2 linked regions of the Homo sapiens genome follow. The protein of the gene in region 2 purifies or fractionates together with the protein of the main gene of each other region. This does not show direct contact. Each region holds a gene or a part of one and is shown on either strand. Other genes may lie near its edges.

Region 1 (3,831 bases), on a different chromosome or scaffold from region 2:
GTATAGACGGGGTTTCACCATGTTAGCCAGGATGGTCTCCATCTCCTGACCTCCTGATCCGCCCTCCTCGGTGGATCCCGCCCAAAGTGCTGGGATTACAGGCGTGAGCTGCGCCCGGCCTTTACTAAACTTTTTTAAGTGAAGTGGAGATAGTTTACAAAATAAATGTTAACTCTTTTTTTTTTCAATAGCAACAAAAGCACAGATTTATTGAAATGAAAGTACACTCCACAGAGTGGGAGCGGGCTCGAGCAAGTGGCACTCGAGCCATGATGAAGTCCTAACTAGTGGAGTTAGGAATGCTTTGTATGTTGATAGTCAAGTGCTTTACTAATCCAAAAGCCTTATTTTCATTGTATTTCCATTCATATTGGCTAATCTCTGGAAAATTACTCAAAGTTTTTATTAATAGTTGGTATTTCAAGCTTTTTAAACAAAAGTCTAAGGAATCATTTAATGAATGTTGATATTCTACATATTTTAATACTGAAGTGTGACATGATTTTTCCCTGAGTACTGTTAAGTTTAGCCTGAAGCTCCCACCTTATGTATTTTAAACTTGGCCTAAAAGTTTCTCTGTACACAGTAAACTGTAACCTAACTGGTTGTGTAAACAGACTGCAACCTACTCTTGTGCTAATCACTGAGGTTCAGCCAATTAAAGGCAACCAGTTGTTCAACCTGTGTTCAAGTAAGGCTGACCCTGAGCTGTAACTGACCCGTCTGTTTCTGTACCTCACTTCCGTTTTCTGTGTGTCACCTTCCTTTTTCTGTCCGTAAATAATTTTCGACTATGCACCAGCACCAGTGTCTTTGAACCTATTCTTGTTCCAGGACTGCCCAATTCTTGAATCCGTCTTTGCTCAGTTAAACTCCGTTAAATTTAATTGTCTAAGGTTTTTCTTTCGTAATACTATCTTGAATTAGTCACACGTTCACTGATCTAACAAAGAAAGAATGTAAATTAGAAAATTAAGTAGTATCAGGGACATATAGTATTTATATAATTCTAAATACACGGTAATGTCTAATATTATGTAGCTTGTGTGTTTTTCATCCAATTTTAAACATCAGGTCTTTAGACTTTGATTCCTTTCATTTTCAAATTTCTAATGAAATGATTTTGGTAATTGGTAATTATTTTTTTGTACCAGAGAAAGAAAATGTACAAATAAACTTTCAGGAATGTAATTAACTATATAACATCAAAGGAGAATCAGTGCATTAAAAAGCCAAATTTTTGGCTGTTCCTATTTATACATGTGGCTTAAAGATCTTTATAAAATAAAGATGGATATTTATTCTAAAAGGGTACATAGGGGTGTATGTGTTAAATAGCCACATTTTAGTTTGTTTGAATCAAGACTCAAATGGAATTGTAAAGGGACAGAATCTTATTAAAAACAACATGAAAATGACTTGCCGGCCATTGATTTGTACAGCTTGGATGGCAAGTGTTAAAATAATGGTTATCTAGAAATTGTAGAACCCTATTTTATGATACTATTATGTAAGAGAGTGTTGGCAAGTTATTTAATGGAGCAGGTTTAAGTCATGTGAGACTTACAAATATTTGCATAGAAACTGAATCCCAGTGGTGGCATGTGGAAATAATTTTTTAAAGGATATGCTTAGGCTATTTAAAAGTTATTTAGTATCAGATTTCAGATCCCATTTTAGAGCTGACGTGAATTTGAAAACATGCCAAGCTTTATGTTATAGTCTACATTACAACTTTAGTCTCAATGGAATCTAAATACTGCCTTGTGAGTTCTGTGAAAAAATTTAATATAGCATAACAGACAGAAATGATTGTCTTGTACTTTCTGAAATAAGTGATACTGCTTCTTCCTCCACATTAGTGAAAAAAGACTGAGGAAGGGGCTTTTATAAGCAAAACCATTTATACATTTGAACACTCTAGGAGTTGTCATTTTAAAATTAGTTCTCAAATAATGAGATACAACTGTTTATTATATAATCAAAACACTACATGAAAACAGGAAAACTGTTAAAATAGTACTATAACTGTTACTTGTATTTGATTATTATAAACTCCTGGGAAAATGGGATAAATACTGTATTAAAAAGAAGATATCTTCCCACTCAGTACCAAAAACTTCCAGATGTAAGTAAAAATTTAAGTGTAAAACATAAAACCATAAAAGTAGTATAAAAAATACGTGAAGTAAATATAGAATATTAGAATGATTCCCATTTCTAGCAGGTACCTAAAACAATAAATAAAAAGACTTCATTTAATTACATAAAAATCCATAGGGTTTTTATATAAGAGAATAAAATTTGAAAGCAAACTAAAAGAGAAGTTTGAAATATATATGACAAATGCCTAATACTCTGATTATATGATGAGTACTTATAAATAAAAAATTTGTAGTTCATAGAAGAAATACAAATAGCTCAAAATTTATAAATGATTCAATCTTAAGAGCAAAAAAGAAAAAAAAAGATGAGATCTTTTTATTCATCAAATTGGCAACTATGGCCGGGCACAATGGCTCACACCTATAATCTTAGCACTTTTGGAGGCCGAGGCGGGAGGATTGCATGAGCTTAGGAGTTTGAGATCAACCTGGGCAGCATAGACTTTGTACAACAACAACAACAATAACAACACTCAAGATATGGTGCAAATACTGTAAGAAGCTCAGAAATGGACAGTTTGACATTATGTATTCACATATTCACATTGTATCCTTTGAAGCAGCATCTCTACTTACAATAATTTATCTGTTGGAATAATAGAGAATGTGAATAACGATTTAGTTACAAAGAAGTTCACTAGTGTGCTATTTGTAATAGCATACTGTTGGAAGCTATCTGATTTTTCAATAATTAAGGTGATGAGATTGCAGTGTTTTTTTTTTACTGCTTTTATGTGAGCTATATCATTTCAAGATAATGTAAATAGAAAATAAAAAAAAACCTCAGTTGAGCTCATAGTAAATACTACTAAATATTTACTCTCTGCTCCAGTTTTCTGATTGATAAATTGTGGATAATAATAGTACTTACTCATAGGGATGTTGGGACAACTGAGTTAGTATATGAAAAGCACTTAGAAGGCCAGGCTCTGTGGCTCATGCCTGTAATCCTAGCACTTTGGGAGGCCAAAGTGCGTGAATCACTTGAGCCCAGGAGTTTGAGACCAGCCTGGGCAGCATGGCAAAACCCTGTCCCTACTGAAAAATACAAAAATTAGCTGGGTGTGGTGGCACATGCCTGTAGTCCTAGCTGCTGGGGAGGCTAAGTTGGGGGATTGCTCGAGCCCAGCAGGTTGAGGCTGCAATGAGCCATGATCACGTCACTGCACTCCAGCCTGGGCAACAGGGTGAGACCCTATTTCAAAAAAAAAAAAAAAAGCACTTACAATAGTGGTTGGCATGTAATGAGTGCTAACTGATGTTTGCTGGTATTAATTCACAAAATGTCCCTGAAATATAACATAGAAAATCATGGTTTGTTGTGTGTATGTTACAGATACATATATAAAAGAGGCCGAGTGTGGTGGCTCACACTGGTAATCCCAGCACTTTGGGAGGCTGAGGCAGGTGAATCAGTTGAGGCCAGGAGTTCAAGACCAACCTGGCCAACGTGGTGAAACCCTGTCTCTACTGAAAAAACAAAACCCACAAAAATTAGCCAGGCGTGGTGGTGCACGCCTGTAATCCCAACTACTTGGTAGGCTGAGGCAGGAGAATTGCTTAAACCCAGGAGGCAGAGGTTGCAGTGAGCTGAGATTGCGCCGCTGCTCTCCAGCCTGGGCAACAGAGCAAGGCCTTGTCTCAAAAAAAAAAATTTTTTTTTAAT
Region 2 (3,170 bases):
GAACCAGCTGATTCAGAAGAAGCTGGCAGACATGCTCACTGAGATTACCCTGGGCCTTCACGCCTGCCTGCAGCTCGGCCGCTTGAAGGACCAGGACAAGTAGGGGCTGTGTGGTGGGGGCGGGGGGATGGCAGCGGTGGCTGGAGGACCTTGTGTCCTTCCTGGAGAGAAAGGTCCTTCCTGCCTGGTGGCCCTGGGGACCTGAACCTTCTGCTGTCCCTCTTGTCCTTGATGGGCTGGGCTGAGGACAGCCCCACTGGTCCCTCATTGGGAGCTTGGCTGCATCAGGGAATCCCCACCCCGGGCTAGGTTTGCTTGGAGCATCGGGATGCCAGGATCCCCAGTCCTTGTTACCCTCATGTGCCACTCCCAGGGCTGCCCCCGAGATGGTTTCTCTGCTGAAGAGGAATAACTGTGGGAAAGCCCTGGACATCGCCCGCCAGGCCCGAGACATGCTGGGGGGGAATGGGATTTCTGACGAGTATCACGTGATCCGGCACGCCATGAACCTGGAGGCCGTGAACACCTACGAAGGTAGGAGCTGGACCTCAGAGGGCTCACTGAGGCCTCAGTGTCTGGGGAGGGGGTACAGGGAGGTGGGACGGGGACAGGTCTGAGTCCAACTCCACCTATCACTAAGTGACAGTGTGACCTGGGGCGAGCCTTACCCCTCTGTCCCTCATCTGGAGTTACTCACATGGGGACTGTGGAAGTGAAGTGCTTCATGCAGCACACAGAGGCCCCATCAGGCCTTGCGAGGGGCTCCCAGCTCTTTCTCCCACATGCTCGGGAGGAGGGATGTTCCTGAGACAGGTAAGCTCCGAAGGCAGCCCAGGGGTGAGGCCCGACTCCTAGCAGGCTGGTGGACGCAAGGGAGTGAGCGAAGCTACACGCAGGAATCAACGCTCCATTTTGTTAAGAGACAAAAGTCATCTTCAGATGACGGTGTTTGCACCCTGTAACTGATGGTGATTTACATGGGGGTCCAGAACCCCTTGCTTGGTGGGAAGACAGATGTGGAAAAAGATACTTAAAAAAAAAAAAAAAGTGCAAACCCAGCATGCGCTATGTAGAAATAGAGGGAGGTATGAGGACCCCCCGGGCAGAGATGCTTCCAGACAGAGAGAACAGCAAATGCAGGAGGGGTGCCTTCCCTGCGCACCTTGCAACCCCAGATCTTGTCTCTATCTGGCATCTGGGGGGTGGGGGGATCCTACAAATGTGAGAATGACCCTGAGGACAAGCAGCGGGCGCCATGAGATGGTTTTATGCAGAGAAGGGATGAGTCAGATTTGGTGCTTTAGGGGCTCGGCGCAGTGGCTCACACCTGTAATCCCAGCGCTTTGGGAGGCTAAGGCAGGAGGATTGCTTGAGCCCAGGAGTTAGAAGTTATGATGAGCTATGATCACCCCACTGCACTCCAGCCTGGGTGACAGAGTGAGACCCTATCTATATTTAAAAAAAATAGGTTTGTACTTTAGGAAGTAAACAGAATTGGCTCTAAAAAGGAGGCTACAATCTGCCTTCTGCTTCAAGGAGCTGGGGAGGAGCAAAGGATGAGACACCAGGGCATGGGGTGTGGGATTCTCTGGGAGAGGCGGCTTCAGATGGGCAGAGGTCAGCTGAGGCAAGTGACTGCTCTTCCGATGTGCTGTCCCTCCTATCCCTCCCGAGGGTAAGAAAGGGCTTGCTGTGTTTCCTTGGAGCTCAGGGGTGCTTTCAGCCTCTGTGGCAAGGAAGCGTGGCCAGGTTGAAAATCAAACATTTAATAAACTGTGGGGCTGGGGGTGGGGAGAACTTGCCAAGGGTGGGGAGCACGAAGCCTGGGCCTATGGCAGGGGCTGGACTTGCTACATTTTGGGAGTTCAGCACAAGGAGCTTTGGGTTTTTGTTTTTTTCTGCCAAGATGCATTATAGAACCATGAAAAACAATTTCTCAGTGTGGCCCAAATGGTGGCCTCACAGTCTTCTCCTGGAGACTGTCACTAAGGCGTGAGTCTCCCGGCAGCTGTCAGCATTCACCATCTCTGTTGGTCTGTACTTCTGAAGCAGTGGCCTGGGGATACATGAAAATTGATTTTAAAGGGAAGTTGTGAGCTATGAAAACTCCAAACCGACTCTGTATTAATCTTGTCCAGGTACACATGACATTCACGCCCTGATCCTTGGGAGAGCTATCACGGGAATCCAGGCGTTCACGGCCAGCAAGTGAGCCGCTCCATCAGGGGCCCGAAACTCTCAAGCCCCTTTCTGGAGAGATGCCTGGCTGGACCGTAGGAGCGCTGTGCTCTGAGCTTAGAAAGGGAGGTGGCGGATGGAGTGGGAAGTGAGAGACACTGATTTTTAAATATCAAAATTTCCCTTCTGAAGTCGTTCAGATGTGTTCCTTAAAAAGAAGATGGAATTCTCTGTAGAGCGTCTCAATCCACTTTTAACCATGGATGAGAGCAGACTCCATTTACCCTGAAATAGCAGCTTCTCTTGAGAGGAGAGTGACATGGAAGCAACTCCGTCTGCTGCAGCTGACCCCCTCACACTGAGTTCACAGTGCGCCCTCCCTCCCTCCCATCTGGGGGTAGTGCCTTATGCTGGGTGTTGGAGCAGAGTGAGGGAGAGGAAAATAAAGACCTGCACATCTGACCCCAAGGTGTCAGGCCGGTTTACTGGTAACCACCTGAGAAGTAGTTTCAGCCACAGAAGAAACGAACACGTCTGGGGGCTGTGAGTTGCCGGGACGTGGTGGGGACTTTCCCCTAGAGTGGTCTGGCCCCCATCTGAGTCTTAGGCTCTGCTGTAAAAAAGAAACCCAGGTTAGCAGTGCCGGTCTGTGCCAGGGCTGTGGGCAGAGGGGATGATTTCTGAGTGGCAGGGGTGCAAGGGACTTTGTCCTTTCTGTCACCACAGAGCTGCTCATACAACAGTGGGACATGACAACGGTTTGGCTTCTCAGCTCAGACACACCATGTTATAGGGGATCACAAACAAGATGGTGAGTGCACCAAGGGCTTTGCAGGGACTGTGGCCTGGCGGGGTCAGGGCTGGGTGCCTGGTTTCTGTTCACATTTACTCTTGGCTGGGCCATCCCTGTCCTCTTCCTCAGGCAGCGCCCCCCCTGTGAGTTTACTCATACCTCAGGCTGGAGACACAGGTCTTTGTACACAGTCTCCACG

What was found. The genes of interacting proteins can lie anywhere in the genome.
Region 1: the proteins of GCDH (region 2) and KLHL8 purify together in Homo sapiens (affinity purification with mass spectrometry; one large-scale study listed by BioGRID and IntAct). This does not show direct contact.

The regions. Positions count from the first base shown.
Region 1 is NC_000004.12:87,186,034-87,189,864, reverse strand, and holds part of KLHL8 (kelch-like protein 8), read left to right. Parts: intron 1-3,831. UniProt on the Homo sapiens protein: Substrate-specific adapter of a BCR (BTB-CUL3-RBX1) E3 ubiquitin ligase complex required for The BCR(KLHL8) ubiquitin ligase complex mediates ubiquitination and degradation of RAPSN.
Region 2 is NC_000019.10:12,897,330-12,900,499, forward strand, and holds the end of GCDH (glutaryl-CoA dehydrogenase, mitochondrial isoform a precursor), read left to right. Parts: coding exon 1-99; intron 100-373; coding exon 374-534; intron 535-1,456; exon of another isoform or gene 1,457-2,011; coding exon of another isoform or gene 2,012-2,056; intron 2,057-2,138; coding exon 2,139-2,212; 3' UTR 2,213-2,370; coding exon of another isoform or gene 2,371-2,414; 3' UTR 2,415-2,670; downstream 2,671-3,170. Other genes in the region: SYCE2 (synaptonemal complex central element protein 2), read right to left, coding at 2,012-2,056, 2,675-2,791, 3,131-3,170. UniProt on the Homo sapiens protein: Catalyzes the oxidative decarboxylation of glutaryl-CoA to crotonyl-CoA and CO(2) in the degradative pathway of L-lysine, L-hydroxylysine, and L-tryptophan metabolism. It uses electron transfer flavoprotein as its electron acceptor. Isoform Short is inactive.